3 linked regions of the Homo sapiens genome follow. The protein of the gene in region 3 interacts with the protein of the main gene of each other region in a pairwise test. Each region holds a gene or a part of one and is shown on either strand. Other genes may lie near its edges. The genes, in order: THAP12, RWDD2B and KIAA1958.

Region 1 (7,354 bases), on a different chromosome or scaffold from region 3:
CAAATGATCTGCCCGCCTCAGCCTCCCAAAGTGCTGGGATTACAGGTGTGAGCTACCATATCCAGCCCAGAAATCCAGTTTTTAATAACAACATCTCCTAGACGTATAGAAAGAACATTTTCTCACATTTGCGTTCATTTATTCAAGATTGAAGAATCATTTAGAAATTAAAAAAGCAAACCTGGCTCATCTTTCTGTTCTATTCTCTAACTAAAGAATGTAAGAATGAACTATCCTTTAAATTTCTCACAATCTGGTTAGAATTATCTAATTAAGAGACCATATTTATTACTAAAATAAAAATGCAAAAATGCATATGGCAAATGTATTTAAAATAATTTGGGATATTTTTACTTCATGTCAAGAACATAAAAGTAGTTTGCCTTTTAAACATATGAAACCTTTTATTTTGGTTGATCATTATTACCCTTTTAACAAATCAAGGCAAAAATATTCCTCAAATATTTGTGATTAAACTGTTGAACCGGAATTGGCTCACCTCCCAATGACTTCACAAGTATCTGCTTCAATTAATTTTGAGAAATAAAATAACCCAATCATTCTTTAGTTTTCTGATGCCTCTGCAAAATGTATCTGAAAAAAATATCAAAATAAATTGCTGCATAACAACATATAGTGTACCTTTGAATCAAGTTTATGTCTATCCCAATATCTGAGGTGTTACATTAGTTACACTGAAACAAGTCTGCTTCATTTCAATCAAATTTGCCTTATTTGTGCCTTTTATAAATCACAGCAAGAGAATCACAGAGGGTTAAAAATCTTAGAACTCAGGAATTACCTGGCCTAATCTCCTTATTAGGAACTGGGGCCCAAAGAGGGGAAGTGACTTGGCCAAGCTCACACAGTTAACAGTAGGTCCTGATATGAAATTACATATTATTGATGAAAATGTTTTTCCACATTACCTGGATAATTTGTTTACCATTATATCTACCACATAAAAATTAAAAGTTGGTTCTAATAGTACATACAAAAACATGAAAACAAGAGCTCCATTCCGAGATGAAAATTTTACTCATAAAAAAGCTCTAAAGAGCTCCAAATAAAAACACCAACTTTACCTTAAATAAACATATACTTTTATAATCATCTAAAATTTTCCTGAAGACTAAATAATATTTAAAAGTGGTTACCTCAGCCGGGTGTGGAGGCTCATACATGTAATCCCAGCACTTTGGGAGGCCGAGGTGGGCGGGTCACTTGAGGTCAGGAGATTGAGACTAGCCTGGCCAACATGGAGAAATCCCACCTCTACTAAAAGTACAAAAATTAGCTGGGCGTGGTGGCACAATGCCTGTAATCTCAGCTACTTGGGAGGCTGAGGAGAGAGAATCGCTTGAGCCCAGGAGGTGGGGGAGGTGGCAGAAGTTGCAGTGAGCTAAGATAGCGCCACTGCACTCCAGCCTGGGTGACAGAGCAAGACTGTCTTTAAAAAAAAAAAAAAAAAAAGTAGTTACCTTGGGTGAGTAGAAATGGGGCACCAGGAACCGAAGAGTTTTGTTTTGTTTTGTTTTGTTTTAATCATTTTGAGTTTTTTTTCCAGACAAGCGCTCACTCTGTCGCCCAGAGTGGAGTGTAGTGGCATGAACACAACTCTCTGCAGCCCCGACGTCATGGGCTCAAGTATCCTCCCATCTCAGCTTCCCAAGTAGCTGGGACTACAGGCATACGTCACCACACCTCGCTAGTTTTTTTGGTATTTTCTGTAGCGACGGCATCTGGCCATGTTGCCCAGGCTGGTCTCAAACTCCTGAGCTCAAGTGGTCTTCCTGCCTCGGCCTCCCAAAGTGCTGGGATTATAGGCCCCCGGCAAAATCAGGATTTTAAGAACAAAACAGATACTTTTCAGCTCCAAATCTGTCTTCATCTTAAAGTGGCAGGATATAGGAATACCTTCCAACATTGGTAAATACTTACATTTCCAACCAGACACAGTGAGAGAGAGAAATCAAGTCAAACAGAGAGACACCAAGCTCTTCTATTACTCACAGTTCTACAGATCATAGAGGTCTCAAAATGTTTGGCACATAATCGATAATGTTTATTTAGCTGATCAGGTGTTTTATCTTCTAAGTCTGCTCTCCTACAGTTCTCCACCCACTTCTGGCATCTATAAATAAAACCAAAATACAATTATGAAAATGAGCTCAGCATTTAAATTTCAGCCTTCAGTTTTAAGGCAAACATACATTAATAACAACGGATTCCTGCTCCCCTCCCTGAGAACATAATTTGGAGAATTTGATTAATAACAAAATAACAGTTGGAAAAAACCTTAGAAGTCATTTAGTACCAACATTTCAATTACAGACAAGGTTAAGAAGTAACTTGTTTGGAGGGAAGTACAAAATCATCAGCAGAACTAGAACTGAAACCTGCATCTTCCAACTCCCAAAACATCAGAGAAGATTCAACCATCAGCAGAACAAGCAGAAAGCTGCATGCACAGCCACAAGGCTCACAGCTTAACATTCCCTTCAGGATTTCAACTTCAACAAGCATACAAAACAACACTGTCACTGTAGAAAATCAGCAATTAGGCCGGGCGTGTTGTCACGCCTGTAATCCCAGCACTTTGGGAGGCCAAGGCAGGCAGATCAGGAGGTCAGGAGATCGAGACCATCCTGGCTAACCCGGTGAAACCCCGTCTCTACTAAAAATACAAAAAATTAGCTGGGCGAAGCGGCGAGCGCCTGTAGTCCCAGCTACTCGGGAGGCTGAGGCAGGAGAATGGCGTGAACCCGGGAGGCGGAGCTTGCAGTGAGCCGAGATTGCGCCACTGCACTCCAGCCTGGGTGACAGAGCCAGACTCCGTCTCGGAAAAAAAAAAAAAAATCAGCAACTAGATGTTCTTTAAATAACTAGTTTCTAAGGGAAGCATAAAGGCTGTATTCGTTTATCTTCCTATGAACACAAATTATTATCTACAGTAATACGTGCTGACTAGATTGCAAGCTCCATGAATGCAGGGACTGTGACTACACAATCTAGTACACAAAAAGTGTTGAAGACAGAGAACAAGACAAAGTCCATGCCCTCTCGGTGCTTAAATATTTTCAGAAAAGCTAATAATAAGCACTTATTATGAGCCAGACACGTTCTAAGTCCTTTCCAAAGATGGGTACTATTAATATCCCCCTTGTGCAGATGAAGGCACAGAAATATTAAGTAACTTGCTAAAGTCACAACTAGATCTTTCCTCAAATTTCTTTTCTTTTCTTTTTTTTTTTTGAGACAGAGTTTTGCTCTTGTTGCCCAGGTTGGAGTGCAATGCCATGATCTTGGCTCACTGCAACCTCTGCTTCCCGGGTTCAAGCGATTCTCCTGTCTCAGCCTCCCAAGTAGCTAGGATTACAGGCATGCGTTACCACGCCTGGCTAATTTTGTATTTTTAGTAGAGACTGGGTTTCTCCATGTTGGTCAGGCTGGTCTCGAACTCCCGACCTCAGGTGATCTGCCCGCCTCGGCCTCCCAAAGTGCTGGGATTACAGGCGTGAGCCACCGCGCCCGGCCCATTCCTCAAATTTCTAAGAATAAAAGTTCTGCCGTGGATAAACAGTATCACAAATTATTTTTTTGAGATGGTGTCTTGCTCTTTAGCCCAGGGTGGAGTGCAGTGGTGTGATCTCAGCTCACTGCAACCTCTGCCTCCCAGGTTCAAGCAATTCTCCTGCCTCAGCCACCCAAGGAGCTGAGATTATAGGCGTGCACCACGACACTCAGCTAAGTTTTGTATTTATAGTACAGATGGGGTTTCAGCACGTTGGCTAGCTTGGTCTCGAACTCCAGATCGCAGGTGATCTGCCCACCTTGGCCTCCCAAAGTGCTAGGATTACAGGCGCGAGCCACTGCGCCCGGCCCAACATATTCCTTTATAATTAAATCACAGTATTTTTTTTTTATGTTTTAACACTATTGTCCACCTCCCCCCAACATACATGCCCCTGACACTTAATTCTCTCTACTCTAAAAATGTCAAATCAAGGTAAAATGCTATGATTTTTAAAAAACTACACCTAAATTGTACAGCATTTCATTTGACCAACAAGTATTACTGCTCACAGTAACGATGCCTAAGATGTTCACAATTTAATCACACTTTTACACAGTTGTACATTATGATTATAAACATTTCATGTTTCAAAATCCAAATATTAAGTATAAAAACGATCTCACTATAAAATAATTTGCCATACTGCTACAGTTGTTTGTTTTTTAAATTCTTAAATCTCTGGAGACCTTCCACACAGAGCAATACTGTACATATTACCTCCGAACTAAGTTGAAACAGCTTTCTGATATCAACAGCAACTCTTATTCAGACAATCAAGAACAGAATGGGCATCAGGCAGAGAGCCTAATCAAATACACCTGACTTTCTATATGAACTACTTAAGAATAAATCTAGTGAAAGAAGTGCAAGACCTCTAATAATCTTTTTAAAGCAAACTTAAATAAATACACAAGTTTATGAACTGGCACACTAAATTCCAAAGATGTCAATTCTCCCCAAACCCATTTACTAATTCAATATAATCACAAGCCCAGTAAGTTTGTGAGAGAGAGCAAGAGAAAGAAATGACAAATTATTCTAAAACTTTTTATACACAACATTAAAGAACCAGGGATAACCAAGATAATCTTGAGAGAGAGAGAGGAAAAAGGAGGTTGAAAGAATTACACTACCAGATATTAAGACTTACTGTAAAGCTTATTAAGACAAGTACTGGCAGAAGGACAGAACAGTGAAACAAAATAGAGCACTGCAGATACTTAAAGGTAGCTCTGAACAGCAGCAAATATGGATTTTTCTTTTCCAATAAATAGGGCCGAGTCAGCTGAATATCTACATGAAAAAAATAAATCTTAACTCCTACTTGTACACCATACACAAAAATAAGTTCCAAGTGATTGGAGATCTAAATATGAAAGGTAAAACAATAAAGCCACTAAAAGATAACACAGGAGATTATCTTCATGACCTTGGAATAAAGATCTCTTAAGGCAACAGCACAAATGCTAGAGGAAAAGATATATAAATTAGGCTACTTTAAAGTTAATAACTTTTCTTCATTAAAAGAAGCCATTTAAGAGTGAAATGGCAGACCACAAAATGTCAGATATTTGCAATACATATATCTAACAATGGACTCACATTCAAAATATATATGAAGAACTCCTACAAATAAATAACCCAACATAAAAATAGGCAAGGGGCCTTGAACAGGCACTTTATAATAAAAAGGTTATAAAAATGGCAATACATAGATGAAAAAAAAATGCTCGATCTCATTTGCCATCAGGGAAATGCTAATTAAAGCCAAAACAAATTACTACATACCCACAAGAATGACTACAATGTAAAAGAGGTAATACCAAATATTGGGGAGAAGGTGAAGTAACTTTGCCCATCAACAGCAGGATGGATAAATTGTGGTATATTCATTCAATGGAATACTACTTGGCTATGAAATGAACAAACTATCTACAATCTCACAAACGTAATGTTAAGCAGAAGAAGCCAGGAGTACATACTACATGATTCCTTTGATATGAAATTCTAGAACAGGCAAAACTCATTCATAGTGATTGTTCAGAAAAAGAGTTAACACAGCAGACCTCAGGCTGCTGTCCTTAGAAAGGCCTGTTTGTTAAGGACCTTGGGCTGGTATCCGGGAACTTGGTTGGTAAACAGTTCCATACACAGAAATAAAATTTTTCCTAACTGATAATGCAGCTCAATGTGCCTAGACTGCTTGTGCAAACAAGCACACCTGCTGAACACCTGCCATCCCTTCTGGGAATTTGGAATTTTATTATATGCCAGGCAGAGGCTGCCTATGTGATCAGGACCCAGTAAAAACCTCGGACACTACGTCTCTAACGGTCTTCTCTCCACAGAAACACGGCACGTGTTGCCACATTTCCACCACTGGGGAAAAACGGGCTCTGGGTGACCCCCTCATGGGAAAGACGGAGCATAGGGAAGCCTATACATGGATTCCTTCAGACTGTGCCTGTCTTTTTCCCTCATGATCCAGATGTGTATCCTTACTACAATGCAATAAATCTTCACTGTGAGTACAACCATATACTGAGTCCTGCAAGCCCTTCTAGTGAATCTTTAAATATGGGGTGGTCTGGCTCCGCCTCAACACAGTGATGGAATAGCAGATACATTTGGGGAGGGTAACAACTGGGAGTGGGCACAAAAGAGGCTACTGAGGTGCTGCTAATGTTCTATATCTCAAACAATAATAAAGCTTCCATTCATTCTCCCTCTTCCCCCCAAAACCTAACTAATCCAAGGTATGTGAAGTCACAGTGGCTACCACTGGGGAGAATGGGATAATGGCTGGGAGAACCATGAAGCAGAGGAAGTTTGGGACGCTAGTGATACTCTATTTTTTAAAAATCCCGGTGAAATTTTCATGGATATGTTACTCTGAAAATCCAACATGATGTACAGTTATCATTTGTGATCTTCTGTGCATATGTTTTTTGGGGTTTTTTTTTGAGAGAGAGGATCTCACTCTGTTGCACAGGCTGGAGTGCAGTGGTGCAATCTCGGCTCACTGCAGCCTCCATCTCCTGGGTTCAAGCGATTCTCCCACCTCAGTCTCCCATGTAGCTGGGACTACAGGCACACGCCACCATGCCTGGCTAACTTTTTGTATTTTTTGTAGAGACGGGGTTTCACCATGTTCCCCAGGTTAGTCTGAAACGCCTGGGTGAAGTGATCGTCCTGCCTCGGCCTCCCAAGGTGCTAGGATTACAGGCATGAGCCACCGCACGTAGCTCTTCTATGTATACGTTTTTACATGAATAAAATTATAAAAATTATATATGACCGGGAGGCTGAGGTAGGAGAATCACTTGAATCCGGGAGGTGGAGGTTGCAGTAGGCCAAGATCGCACCACTGCACTCCAGCCTGGCAAGAGAGCGAGACTCCGTCTCAAAAAAAAAGAAAAAAAAAAAAAATATATATATATATGACCACAATAAGTGTTTTCACATGTGTATTCATATGTGTATTATGAATATGTATATATATTTATATACATACATACCCACTTACATACTCGTCTCAAATTTTTACCAATGCCTCCCCTTTCCCAGCTCTCCCTGTCATTGTTCTGTTCCCTGTACTCCAGATTTTGTAGACTTTTCCCTTAGCACAGTGGAATGACTCCCCAAATCCATCTGCTTCTCTCCATCAATAACACCCTGGTCCAAGCTACCATAATTTTTTACCTGGTCTACTAGTATCTCTTCCAAACTGGTCATCTGCCCTTCTCTAACCCCTTCTCCGTGCTGCAGAGCATTTTT
Region 2 (7,354 bases), on a different chromosome or scaffold from region 3:
GGACCACAGGTATGCACTGCCACGCCCGGCTTCATTTTTTATTTGTAGAAACAAGGTCTTGCTATGTTGTCCAGACTGGTCTTGACCTCCTGGGCTCAAGCAATCCTCCTGCCTTGGCCTCCCAAAGTGCTAGCATTACAGGTATGAGCCACTGTGCATGGCATTTATTAGTTTTTTTTTTTTTTTTTTTGAAACGGAGTCTCGCTCTGTCACCCAGGCTGTAGTGCAGTGGCGCAATCTTGGTTCACTGCAAGCTCCACCTCGGCGCGTTCACGCCATTCTCCTGCCTCAGCCTCCCAAATAGCTGGGACTACAGGCGCCCAACACCACACCCGGTTAATTTTTTGTATTTTTAGTAGAGATGGGGTTTCACCGTGTTAGCCAGGATGGTCTTGATCTCCTGACCTCATGATCCGCCCGCCTCGGCCTCCCAAAGTGCTGGGATTACAGGTGTGAGCCACTGCGCCCGGCCTATTTATTAGTTTTTAAGAAGCAGAGGAACATAAAGAGAAAATAAGTGTTAATTGTCCTGTAGCTTAAGTCACCCCTGTTAACATTAAAACATCTTAAGCATTATACATATATATATGTGAAAAATGCTGGTATAATGTATAAATATGTACAATGTGAGATATATACAGTATACATATTTAAATCCAAAGGGGATAATATATACTTTTTCCTCCTATTTCCTATCTCCCTCCCCACCAAATATATTTTGTAGATCTATTCACTGTCAACATATAGTGATCTACCTCATTCTTTGTAACTGTCGGCTGTTATACTGAATCATGTAGATATGCCATAACTTATTTAATTCTTTACCTATTGATGGACACTTGGGTTGTTTCCACATTTTTACTAATATGAACAATCCTATAATGCAAGGTCTTTTTATATATATAGTATGGTAAACTGAATACTGTGTATTCAATAATAAACTTACAGAGGTGGATTGTTGTATCAACATGTACATTTTAAATTTTGATAGATATTGCCAAGTTACTTTCCAGAAAGTTGCCATACAGAACAGAAATTTACAATTGTACTCAGTCCCCTGCTTCTTTTCTTTAAAAGAAAATTCTTAATACATAGTTCCTTTTGGCCTAGCACGGTGGCTCACACCTGTAATCCCACCACTTGGGGAGGCCAAGGAGGGTGGATAGCTTGAGTCCAGGAGTTTTAGATCAGCCTGGGTAACATAACGAAACCCTGTCTCTACTAAAAAATACAACAAAATTACCCGGGTGTGTTGGTGCGTGCCTGAAGTCCCAGCTACTTGGGAGGCTGAGACAGAATCACTGGAACCTGGGAGTCAGAGGTTGCAGTGAGTTGAGATCGTGCCATTGCACTCCAGCCTGGGCAAAAAGAGTGAAACTCCGTCTCAAAAAATAAAAATAAAAAAAAAAAACCAAAAAAAACCCTCTCCCTCTCCCTCTCCCGTCTCCCCATGGTCTCCCTCTCCCTCTCTTTCCACGGTCTCCCTCTGATTCCGAGCCGAAGCTGGACGGTACTGCTGCCATCTCGGCTCACTGCAACCTCCCTGCCTGATTCTCCTGCCTCAGCCTGCCGAGTGCCTGCGATTGCAGGCGCGCGCCGCCACCCCTGACTGGTTTTCGTATTTTTTTGGTGGAGACGGGGTTTCGCTGTGTTGGCCGGGCTGGTCTCCAGCTCCTAACCGCGAGTGATCCGCCAGCCTCGGCCTCCCGAGATGCGGGGATTGCAGACGGAGTCTGGTTCACTCAGTGCTCAATGGTGCCCAGGCTGGAGTGCAGTGGCGTGATCTCGGCTCGCTACAACCTCCACCTCCCAGCAGCCTGCCTTGGCCTCCCAAAGTGCCGAGATTGCAGCCTCTGCCCGGCCGCCACCCCGTCTGGGAAGTGAGGAGCGTCTCTGCCCGGCCACCCATCGTCTGGGATGTGAGGAGCCCCTCTGCCTGGCTGCCTAGTCTGGAAAGTGAGGAGCGTCTCTGCCCAGCCGCCCTGCCATCTAGGAAGTGAGGAGCGCCTCTTCCCAGCCGCCATCCCATGTGGGAAGTGAGGAGCGTCTCTGCCCGGCCGCCCATCGTCTGAGATGTGGGGAGCACCTCTGCCCTGCCGCCCCGTCCGGGATGCGAGGAGCGTCTCTGCCCGGCCACCCGGTCTGAGAAGTGAGGAGACCCTCTGCCTGGCAACCACCCCGTCTGAGAAGTGAGGAGCCCCTCCGCCCGGCAGCCGCTGGGTCTGAGAAGTGAGGAGCCCCTCCGCCCAGCAGCCACCCCGTCTGGGAAGTGAGGAGCGTCTCTACCCGGCAGCCACCTCGTCCGGAAGGGAGGTGGGGGGGGGTCAGCCCCCCGCCCGGCCAGCCGCCCCTTCCGGGAGGGAGGTGGGGGGGGTCAGCCCCCCACCCGGCCAGCCGCCCCGTCCGGGAGGGAGGTGGGGGGGTCAGCCCCCCGCCCGGCCAGCCGCCCCGTCCGGGAGGTGAGGGGCGCCTCTGCCCGGCCGCCCCTACTGGGAAGTGAGGAGCCCCTCTGCCCGGCCAGCCGCCCCGTCCGGGAGGGAGGTGGGGGGGTCAGCCCCCCGCCCGGCCAGCCGCCCCGTCTGGGAGGTGAGGGGCGCCTCTGCCCGGCCGCCCCTACTGGGAAGTGAGGAGCCCCTCTGCCCGGCCAGCCGCCCCGTCCGGGAGGGAGGTTGGGGGGTCAGCCCCCCGCCTGGCCAGCCGCCCCATCCGGGAGGGAGGTGGGGGGGTCAGCCCCCGACCCGGCCAGCCGCGCCGTCCGGGAGGGAGGTGGGGGGGTCAGCCCCCCGCCCGGCCAGCCGCCCTGTCCGGGAGGTGAGGGGCGCCTCTGCCCGGCCGCCCCTACTGGGAAGTGAGGAGCCCCTCTGCCCGGCCAGCCGCCCCGTCCGGGAGGGAGGTTGGGGGGTCAGCCCCCCGCCCGGCCAGCCGCCCCGTCCGGGAGGGAGGTGGGGGTGGTCAGCCCCCCCCCGGGAGGTGAGGGGCGCCTCTGCCCGGCCGCCCCTACTGGGAAGTGAGGAGCCCCTCTGCCCGGCCACCACCCGGTCTGGGTGGTGTACCCAACAGCTCACTGAGAACGGGCCATGATGACAATGGCGGTTTTGTGGAATAGAAAGGGGGGAAAGGTGGGGAAAAGATTGAGAAATCGGATGGTTGCTGTGTCTGTGTAGAAAGAGGTAGACATGGGAGACTTTTCATTTTGTTCTGTACTAAGAAAAATTCTTCTGCCTTGGGATCCTGTAGATCTGTGACCTTACCCCCAACCCTGTGCTCTCTGAAACATGTGCTGTATCCACTCAGGGTTGAATGGATTAAGGGCGGTGCAAGATGTGCTTTGTTAAACAGATGCTTGAAGGCAGCATGCTCCTTAAGAGTCATCACCACTCCCTAATCTCAAGTACCCAGGGACACAAACACTGCGGAAGGCCGCAGGGTCCTCTGCCTAGGAAAACCAGAGACCTTTGTTCACTTGTTTATCTGCTGACCTTCCCTCCACTATTGTCCTGTGACCATGCCCAATCCCCCTCTGCGAGAAACACCCAAGAATGATCAATTAAAAAAAAAAAAGTCTTCTATTTTCTATTTGGAATACATTTTCAATTTCTGCATTTAAATATTTGATCCATCTGGGATATACTTCACTTTAAAAGGTGACGGAAGTTTCCAGCTTATTTTTTTTTTCCAGTTAACTAGCCATTTTTACCAGTACATCTTATAATAAATTTGAAATGTTTCTTTCAACATATGTTAAGTGCCTATATGTATTTGAGTCTTTTTCTGGATTCTCCATTTTGTTATATTGATCTGTCTATAATATCATGTCCTAATACTCTTTTTTTTTTTTTTTTTGAGACAGAGTCTCACTCTGTCACCCAGGCTGGAGTGCAGTGGTGCGATTATAGCTCGTTGCAGCCTCGAACTCCTAGGCTCAAGCAATCCTCCTGTCTCAGCCTCCCAAGTATCTGGGACTACAGTCATGCTACCACCATACCCAGCTAACTAATACTCAACTCTTGAAATCACTATGATGGGTTAGTAAATTGCTCCTACTCTGTCTCTTCATAGCCATCACTCTTCTTTTCTAGAATTCTTTTTTGGTATTTCCTGGCTTTTCTCACATATAAACATTAGAATAATTTTGTTAAGTTTTGAAAACAAGAAAAAATGGTAATTGCATTGAAATTAAAGATTAGGCCTGGCGCGGTAGCTCACGCCTGTAATCCCAACACTTTGGGAGGCAGAGGCGGGCGGATCATGAGGTCAGGAGATCCAGACCATCCTGGCTAACACAGTGAAACCCCACCTCTACTAAAAACACAAAAAATTAGCCGGGCGTGGTGGCCGGCGCCTGTAGTCCCAGCTACTCGGGAGGCTGAGGCAGGAGAATGGCGTGAACTCGGGAGGCGGAGCTTGCAGTGAGCCGAGATCGCGCCACTGCACTCCAGCCTGGGCGACAGAGTGAGACTCCGTCTCAAAAAAAAAAAAAAAAAAGAAATTAAAGATTAATACAGAAAAAGACGATATGTTTATAACGTAGAATTTTCCCTTCAGTAGTTTTTTTAATAGCTTTAATGAGGTATAATTTATATGCCATACCATACTACTGCCAAGCAAGATCTTTAAAATGTTAGCATCCCTTAAGGTTTGGTTGAGGACATCTTTATCTTCTCTATTGTCTCATGGTACCAAGTATTACTGAATATTAAATGTTCACAATTCTCAAATTCTTAGGATGTTCCAAATTCTCGAGCCCCATATTTGTAAATTTAACTATATCTGTATATTTCTATTGGATGTTATATTAGTTCATTTTCTGTTACGATAACAGACTACCTGAGACTGGGTAGTTTACGATGAAGAGAAATTTATTTGGCTTATTGTTCTGGAAGCAGGGAAATCCAAGAGAATGGTGCCTGCATTTTGCAAGGGCATTCTTACTGAGTCATCCCATGGCGGAAGGCAGAGGGCAAGAGAGAATGAGAGCAAGTGCAAGAGAGATGAAGGGGCCAAATGCATGCTTTTATCAGGAACCCACTCCCACAATAACTAACCCACTCCTGCAGTAACACCATTAATCCATTTGTGAGGGCCCTGTTCTTTGGGAACTTTTTCAACCCTGCCTTCTTTCTCTTCTTCTGAAATGCTGATGACAGGAATGTTACATTTTTTGTTATATCCCTGCATATCACTTAATCACCTCTGAAAGGTCCCACCACTCAACTCTATTGCTTTGGGATAAAGCTTCTAACACATGAACTTTGGGGCACACATTAAACCACAGCAGAGACCATCTCAGTCTTAACAGTCCTAAAATAGGTCTAAATGGCCTGGCGCAGTGGCTCACGCCTGTAATCCCAGCACTTTGGGAGGCCAAGGCAGGCAGATCATGAGGTCAGGAGATCAAGACCATCCTGGCTAACATGGTGAAACCCCATCTCTACTAAAAATACAAAAAATTAGCCGGGCGTGGTGGCGGGCACCTGTAGTCCCAGCTACTCAGGAGGCTGAGGCAGGAGAATGGCGTGAACCCAGGAGGCAGAGCTTTCAGTGAGCCGAGATACAGCCACTGCACTCCAGCCTGGGCGGCAGAGCGAGACTCCTTCTAAAAATAAAAAAATAAAAATAAATAAAGTAAAATAAAATAGGTCTAAATTATATTTCTTTAATAATAATTCTTTTATTATTTCTTTTCTGTTTAGAGAACCTATTTTAACCATTCTTTTAGGATAGGTCTGCTGGTGACAAATCTCCTAGATTTCCTTCATCTTAGAATGTCTTGATTTCCCCTTCATTTCTGCAGAATATTTTCACTGGATGCAGTATTCTGGCTTAACAGGTTTTTACTTTCAACAATTGAAAAATGCTGTGCCTCTTCACCTAGCCTCTCTGGTGACTGATGAGAAATCACTCTCATTTGAATTGTTTTCCTTTACAGATAAGGTTCATTTTTGTCACTAATTTTAAGAATTTTTCATTGTCTTTGGTTTTCAGAAGTTTGATTATGATGCGTTTTTTTTTTTTTTTTTTTTTTTGAGATGGGAGTCTCACTTTGTCACCCAGGCTGGAGTACAATGGTGCAATCTTGGCTTATTGCAACCTCCACCTCCCAGGTTCAAGCAATTCTCCTGCCTCAGCCTCCTGCGTAGCTGGGATTACAGGCGCACACCACTACGCCCAGCTAATTTTTGTATTTTTAGTAGAGATGGGGTTTCACCATGTTGGGCAGGCTGGTCTCGAAATCCTGACCTTGTGATCCACCCGCGTTGGCCTCCCAAAGTGCTGTGATTACAGGTGTGAGCCGCCACACCTAGTCTTTTTTTTTTTTTTTTTTGAGATGGAGTTTTGCTCTTGTTGCCCAGGCTGGAGTGCAATGGCACAATCTTGGCTCACCACAACCTCCGCCTCCTGGGTTCAAGTGATTCTCTTGCCTCAGCCTCCCGAATAGCTGGGATTACAGGTGTTCGCCACCACGCCCAGCTAATTTTTTGTATTTTTAGTAGAGAAAGGGTTTTATCATGTTGGCCAGGCTGGTCTCAAACTCCTGACCTCAGGTGATCTACCTACCCTGGCCTTCCAAAGTGCTGGGATTACAGGCGTGAGCCACCATGCCCAGCCCCATATGGTTTAGGTATTTATCCTAGACAAAAGCAATCCTAATTAGGCGAGAGACTATATGGGCACAATTCTTATTTGTGACTTCTCAGAGTCTTAAACTGTGAATTTCCAAGAGGGGTGTTCAGTATTCTGTCTGACTCCAGAACATGTTTTTCCAGGCCAAATGACATTAGCCCTCCTCTCCACAGAACAGAGCAGGATTCCTTATTTTGCCATGTAGTTACCTGAATTTAAGTAGTTTAAATATAAGCATTTAAAGTATCATAAAAGATGGTGGGTAGCCTTGATAATATTTATACATATATTAACATATATTTATTAATATGTCTATTCATGTTTAATTTGAAGTTTTCCTCTTCTAATAACTGTTGGAACTGCAAATATTCCTCCCTCCTTTAATCGCAATGTTTTCTTTTGTTTTTTTTCCGATTTTTTATTTATTTATTTTTTTGAGACGGAGTTTCGCTCTTGTTGCCCAGGCTGGAGTGAAATGGTGCAATCTCGGCTCACTGCAATCTCCACCTCCCAGGTTCAAGCGATTCTCCTGCCTCAGCCTCCCAAGTAGCTAGGATTACAGGCATGCGCCACCACACCCAGCTAATTTTTTGTATTTAGTAGAGATGGAGTTACACCATGTCAGTTGGGCTAGTCTCAAACTCCCGACCTCAGGTGATTCACCCGCCTTGGCCTCCCAGAGTGCTGGGATTACAGGCATGAGCCACTGCTCCCGGCCTTTTTTTTTTTA
Region 3 (7,354 bases):
GAAATGGCTAAGAAAATAAATTTTAGTCTTGTTTCTTTCTTTGTGTTTTTTTTTTTTGAGATGGAGTCTCGCTCTGGAGCCCAGGCTGGAGTGCAGTGGCACAATCTTGGCTCACTGTAACCTCTGCCTCTGGGGTTCAGGCAATTCTCCTGCCTCAGCCTGCCGAATAGCTGGGACTACAGGCGCCTGCCACCACGCTGGGCTAATTTTTGTATTTTCAGAAGAGATGGGGTTTCACCATGTTGGCCAGGCTGGTCTTGAACTCCTGACCTCAGGTGATCCACTCGCCTTGGCCTCCCAAAGTGTTGGGATTACAGGCATGAGCCACTGTGCCCAGTTAGTCTTGTTTCTTCTTGTAAGAAGAGGCATATATTTCTCATGGAATAAAGAAATATATAAAATATGTGTCTATGTATATATATATACATATATATGTATGTATACACAAGCACACATATTTATACATATTTCCACACTTAGAACACTTTTCCAATATACACTGCCTTTAAATAAAACACGTAACAACTCTTCTTATCTGCCCACATAAAAAAAACTAAATGCTCAAAAGAAAACAAAACAAACCTCCCATAAACAGTAGTAGGAATCTCTGGTTTACTGCCCCTCTCAAGAATCATACCTAGAATGTTCTTGGAAGAATACTTCCACCCCACGCTCACACTCAGCTATGTAGTTTGTGTAGGCTTGGTCTCAATACCATTTCCAGGGTGGGGGCCTGATCCCCCTATGCGTGATTTAGGGGTGACTGGGAATGCTGTGACACAGGTTCTGTCTACTGCTAGACAAGAAACCAGCAGCACAACCATCTTGGGTCCACGCAGGGGTCAAGTATAACAGGTGAATCTAATAGGGAGGAAGGCAAGGTGGCAAATGGCAAGAGGGAAACTTGATGCTGTCTGAGCCTGAGTGAAAGCTGGTTTGAAAATCTGTCCTTGGACTATAAGGCAGTCAATTCTCTCCTTTAACTTATTTCAACTCAGATTTTTTGCTTCTGACAAGAGAAACCATTATCTATTATGTCAACACAGATCAAATAACTGGCAGTAATACATACCTTAATCAATTTTTAAAAGCTCACTGAACTCAATTTTACATGAGTAATTTTTCAAAAAGCATATTAAATGACTTAGACTACATTTCTTTCTGAATGCATTTTTTGTATAAAATACAATCACCATAAATTTATACAAATAAATACTCAAACAGTAAAAATCAGAAGAAAAAATAAAGAGATCAATAAAAACAGAACTGAAAACAAGAAAGAGACCCAATAATAAACAAAAATGTGGTATCTGAATCAATTCAGCGGAGAATGAGAATTATTCAACAAATGAAGCTGAGACACCTGACTACCTGCAAAAATAGTAACATGAGGTTCTACCCCAAAAGGTATTCTAACTGTAAAGTCAAATGTCAAAAAAAGAAAGGGAGAGGAGAGGAGAGAGAAAGAAAACCATAAAAGAATAAGAGGGAAATACAGAGAAATATTTATGTGATCCCAATGTATGGAAAGGACTTCCTAAGCAAAATACCAAAGACAGAAAAGATTGATTGACTGATAGATGTTGAAAGAATTGCCTTCATAAAAATTAAGAAAATTCACACCTTAAAAAAGGTCATCAACAAAATTAAAAGCTAATGGTAAAGTGGGAAATGTATTTCCAATATACGTGAGAGACTATGAGCTACTTGGGAAATGTATTTCCAATATACATGAGAGATTATGAGTTACTATTTCTAATATATCCAGAACCCATATGAATCTATTAGAAAAAGATAAATAAATTTTTTTAAAAGAAAAAATATATATACATACAAATCTGATAGGCAAAAATGGATTGCTTATACCACAGAACTGGGAAAAAAGCTGATTAATAAAAGGGATCCTTACACAAAATCATAAAAGAAGCTATGTGTATGTAAGTATATTGAAGAAATATAATATACACATAAAACCCTAACTCATGATGCGATAGAGATTTAAATGTCATTATGACAAATGCCCCAAATTTACATAAAACCTCAAAAATTAATGGAATCCAAGCTACTAGTAGGTAGTCAATAATTCTTCTAATAATAGATGCCCTCTTTACTCATTGTTTGCTAAGATTTGGATTGAGCAGTATGGCAGGATTGACATGAAAATTAATGATTTTATCTATACCTTGATTAACATTTTATAATTTTATGAGTTCAGCTCTGAACAGAAGTAGGGATGATTTTCCACTATGGGAATCAAATTTAAATGGCAACAGTAAAACCAAACAAAATGGAACAATTTCTCTTTGTTTCTGGCTGACTCAATAGTCATTTGTCAAATTATTTATTTTAAAAATATTATCTAAAGATACGCAGTATTTCTGCAATGATCTGATAAAGACTCAGTACAGAGCATCCATTTTAAAAGAACCTGACTTAGCTTTCAGAACCTGTCTTCTTTGCTTAGTCCCAAGTACGCTTTACATATTAACTGTGTAAGGTCCATCCGTAACCAAGTCATTCACATACATCTGGGTGTGCTAGATTCTAAATTTTTTAAAATCTATGTTTAGAAAGATTATCTACTATAAATAAACATGCAAACACAAACACATAACTAAAACTTTAGAACACAGAATCTAGTTAGGTACTAAAGTAAAAAGTAAATTTTATGTTAACTTTATACAGTTCACTCAAAAGAAAAATATGAGTCTGATTTTTATTTGTCCCACTGCTGTTTCCAGTTCAAACAGTATATCTCTAAAGCTAATGACATCTTAGCAATATGATACCCTTCCCGAGAACAATGGATCAAAATATGAGGACCATCCTTGGAAAATCGTCATGACCAGTCTTCATAGTGTTTTTCTTAAAGGTTTACCTCCAAGCCAAACTAATCCTCCTCTGAGAATAAAGCCAAATCACAATTTATGACAGTATATATTCTGTGCTCTCTTTGGCCATGCCAGCTTTTCATAGCTAATATAAGAAGTGCAATTTCCATGAGGGAAGAAAAAAACCTAAGAGAATGTAATACACACAATAATAAATGGATTCGTTTTTTTTTTTTCAAATAGGCTGAATTTCTTTCCCAAAATAATGAGACAGTAATATATTCATATATGGTTTAGCAAAGCGCCTCAGTGCCTCATTTACTATCCACAAGGCAGATGCAGAAAAGTCTTGCATCTTGCTTTGCAGGGATTAGTGAAAAGGTATGCAACACAACTAATACTCTCACCAAACTGGGTACACTGGACCACTTTGCAAAATACATTTCTGAATTCTACCCTATTTAAATGAAAAAAAAAAAAGGGGGGCAGGAGAGTTCAAATAAATAAATAAACTAGAACTAGGTTCATAACCATTTAAGTGAAAAGGTGCTACTTATATCCTACATATATCAAGAGTCAGATTTCCTAGAACAAAGACTTTCACCAGCCTAATAAAGATAACATTTTGTCTCATGATGAGATTAGTCAAGGACCACATTGTTATTCAATGATCAAAGTATAATTCATTAAAATATTTTTTAAAAGAAAGAAAGAAAAAGACAATCCATGGGATGGGAGAAAATACTTGCCAATTATATACCTGATAAGGATCTCATATTCAGCACACATAAAGAACTCCAAAAACTCACCAATAAGAAGGCAATTTTAAAATGGCCAAAAGATTTGAGTAGATATTTCTCAAAAGAAAATATACAAATGGCTAACAAGCACATGAAAAAAATCTCAGTACCATTAGTCATTAGGGTAATGCAAATCAAAACCCCAATAAGATACTACTTCACACACCCAATAGGATATTTATTATTTTTTTAAACATGAAAAATAACAAGTGTTGGTGACAATGTGGAGCAGTAAGAACCTTTATAGATTACTAGTGAGGCTGTACAATGATGGAGCTGCTTGGGAAAACAGTTTGACAGCTCCTCAAAAAGTTAAATACAAAGTTACCACAGGACCCAGCAATTCCACTCCTAGGTAGTTACCCAAGCAAGATAAACATACACACCCACACAAAAACCTGTTCACAAATGTTCACAGCAGCAGTATTCATAATAGCCAAAATATGAACACAACCCCAATGTCCATCAACTGATGAAAGGAAAAATAAAATATGGTATAGTCATACAACAAAATATTATTTGGCAATAAAAAGGAAAGAAACGCTACAACATGGATTAACCTTGAAAACATAATGCTAAGTGTAAGAGGGTGGTCACAAAAGACCACATAATATATGATTCCATGTATATGAAACATATAGAATAGGAAAATCCATAGACAGAAAGCAGATTAGCAGTTGCCAGGAACTAAGAGGAGGGAAAAAGTGACTGTTAATGGGTATGGGATTTCTTTTTGGGGTGATGAAAATATTCTGAAATTAGATAATAGCGATAGTTGTACAACTCTATGAATACACCAAAACCCACTGAACTGTACACTTTAAAAGAGTGAATTTTATATGTGAACTGTATCTCAATAAAACTATTATTTAAAAAAAGATAAAAGTGAATAAACTGAAAAGCATAATCTTCAATCAGGATATAAATATTTTCAGTGAATATCTTCTTAATAACACCATGACTATGTCTTCAAAAAAATCATAAATGAAAGGTCTTCTTTGGGAATCTTAAAGTTGATACTAAAATTGGAAAAAAGAAGTTTGTAAAGCAACTTAATCCAAGGACGTTTCAGGATGAAGGCACAGGGGCCTCAGGTTTCTAGGAAGCTTTTCCCAAAATACACGACGTTTTTGAGAAGGGCTGAAATAAACTAAAACATGCCACAGATTTCTGCACATTTGTTCATCCTTGTCCACGTTTCTATTCTAGCCTACTAGAATTGAGTCATGAAGCCAAAGCATGAGATCCAACCCCTTTATATACTAATGGCCCAGATTAAATAAACATTGAATGTCAGAATTAAAGAACATTAGAACGTTAGAATTACAGGTGCAGGGGCCTCGTACAATTATTTCATTCTCCTCTCAATCCATTCCCATTGGCTCACAGATTCCAGAAATGCAAGTTTCCATATTCTTTTAAATTTTAAGAGAAAAGATCAAATACCTCTTTTAGAAATGTACATTGCTTTTTAAAATACTTATTAACTACCAGAGCAACTAAAATGAATAGCAACGTCAAGTTGGCTCAGTCAAATAAATAATACGAAAAGCATTAGGTCTATTGTCATGATATGCCTTACCCAACATTATTTTGGCTTCAAACAGCAACTAAACACCTTGCTACTGATGGAGAAGCATATTTTTAAAACTTTCAAAAATAACTTTACTATATAAAAATTCAGCTGACAGGTATCAACCTTAAATCTAACGCTGCAATATCAACAGAACAATCTTACAGCTGTCCTCTCAGCCCTAAGGTACGTCAACTAGATATGGCCATAATTCTTATGAATTTCCTGTATAGTATCACCTGGATGTAACACAGTCATTGTTTCTATCTTTCTATGACTAACAAAGGACTGAATTCTAGCAAACTGAGTGAATGGTTTTAGAAGTGCTGACGGCGCAGAATTCTGGCGTGCGTGGATGAGGGACTCACTGTCGCCTCATGTGCCATACCTGGTATGCACTGTGCTGTGGCCTCAGTGGTTATGGCTGGAGCGACTGGGGGCTGCTGCTGACTGGAGCTCACTTCTGGCTCTGTGTTAACTGAGGGAGAAAGGGCTACCTCACAGGAGGAGACCTGGCTGGGCAGATGGGACAGGAACTCTTCAGAGGCAACTTGCTCATCCTGTCCAGGCAGCTGCAGGGCAGACAAGGGGATACTGATCTGTTTGTTAGGATGGGATGTGCTCACAGGCATTTGCATGGCCACCTGTTGGTTGGTGCCATGTGTACCAGGGGGTCCTCTGTTTGGTGAAGCCAGAGATACCCTAGCAGTCTTCTGGACAATTGGTCTGGAGATCACAGAGGGGGATGCAGACATACCGTGTGGGTCTAGCTCCGTGCTGATGGCAGATGTGACATGGGGAATCAGTTTAGCAGACCCTACACAGGAGGGACCAGCGTGAGTCTGAGGCTTGGGTTTTGCCATCTGTGTCAAGGACAGGGCTGGTCCATCTACTCCTCCTGTCAGTTCTGCATTTGCCACAATGTAATAATCTTCGGGGATTTCTTGTTTGATTTTCTTGATGATGACATCATTGCTGCATTCGTCAACCATCTGCGTCTGGGAGCTTGAATGGAGGGAAGATGGGACTACCCCAGGTCTTTTGCGAGCAATGCTTTGAGGCCTTTGGGTTTGGGGTTCAAAGTCACTATCCTCATCTGTAACAGAAGACTCACAAACCATGTCAAACAGGGTGTTCTCATCTTCATATTCTTCAACAGTTTCATCCAGTTCAGAGGGCTCACTACAGTAGGAGAAGTCACAAGAGTCTCTGGTCCGGTTACAGTCTAGCTTTGCTTTCACTGGTCTCCCAGGGTACCTTTCAACAGGGCTAGTCTGTGTCTCAGAGGGCACCCCGATTATACTGGGACTATCAGAGTTAAAACTTCTGTTATCCTGGAAACAGACCCTCTCTTGGGACCCAGCTCTGCAAGTAGCTGTTAGTGGCCAGTGATAAGCATGGCCAGCACTACAGCCCCACATTGCTGTCAGGTTCCCATGGGAACCTTCAGAAAGCAAGTGTTTCAGGTTTGGAATGAGGCTGCAAATAGTCCCATGGCTATGGGCCCAGCTGACCAATTTGGACAGATTCTCAGATGAGGTATGAAGACAATCCTCCATGTTACAGGATCAGCAGTGTCACTCCTAAAGGGAAATAATCAAAAGAAGAAGCCATTATTACCCAAGATAATCCTATAGCTCAATTACTTCAGTTTGTTCCAAATATGATCATTTGGCATAAAAAAAAAACGCACTTCAAAACTGAATCTAGTTAAGGTCGCTGTAGATGAGCAGGGACTGGAAGAGAATACCAGGAAAAGTAAAAACAGCTGATGACTGATGGTTGTGGGATTTGGAGAAAAATTTTGTTACTTTTCTTTATTGTTATAATAATTCCTGCCTAAGGGGGGAAAGAAAGGAGAGAAAGAAAAAGAGAAACAAGCAATAAAGAAATGAGCTTTTCCATGGTACATTTTACTTCCAAAGTCACTGACAGAGAGGTTCAGATGGTCCCTCAATAATAAAATTGTGTCTATTACTTGCATTAACCAAGAGGATGCAGCTCCAATGACACCCTTTGTCATCAGAAACTTTACTACTAGAGGCAGAGCCAACAAAGGAGGTTTAGATCCATCTTAGGACGGAGGTCAGAGAGAGCAAGCCAGTCCTCTACTGGGCACCAGAAGACAATGCAACTGGGAGTCCAAGGAG

What was found.
Region 1: the proteins of KIAA1958 (region 3) and THAP12 interact in binary tests that used the Homo sapiens proteins (3 or more experiments, as listed by UniProt).
Region 2: the proteins of KIAA1958 (region 3) and RWDD2B interact in binary tests that used the Homo sapiens proteins (3 or more experiments, as listed by UniProt).

The regions. Positions count from the first base shown.
Region 1 is NC_000011.10:76,363,839-76,371,192, forward strand, and holds part of THAP12 (52 kDa repressor of the inhibitor of the protein kinase), read right to left. Parts: intron 2,135-7,354; coding exon 2,014-2,134; intron 595-2,013; exon of another isoform or gene 500-594; intron 1-499. UniProt on the Homo sapiens protein: Upstream regulator of interferon-induced serine/threonine protein kinase R (PKR). May block the PKR-inhibitory function of DNAJC3, resulting in restoration of kinase activity and suppression of cell growth.
Region 2 is NC_000021.9:29,009,222-29,016,575, forward strand, and holds part of RWDD2B (RWD domain-containing protein 2B), read right to left. Parts: intron 472-7,354; exon of another isoform or gene 374-471; intron 1-373.
Region 3 is NC_000009.12:112,573,490-112,580,843, reverse strand, and holds part of KIAA1958 (uncharacterized protein KIAA1958), read right to left. Parts: intron 6,788-7,354; 5' UTR 6,764-6,787; coding exon 5,593-6,763; intron 1-5,592.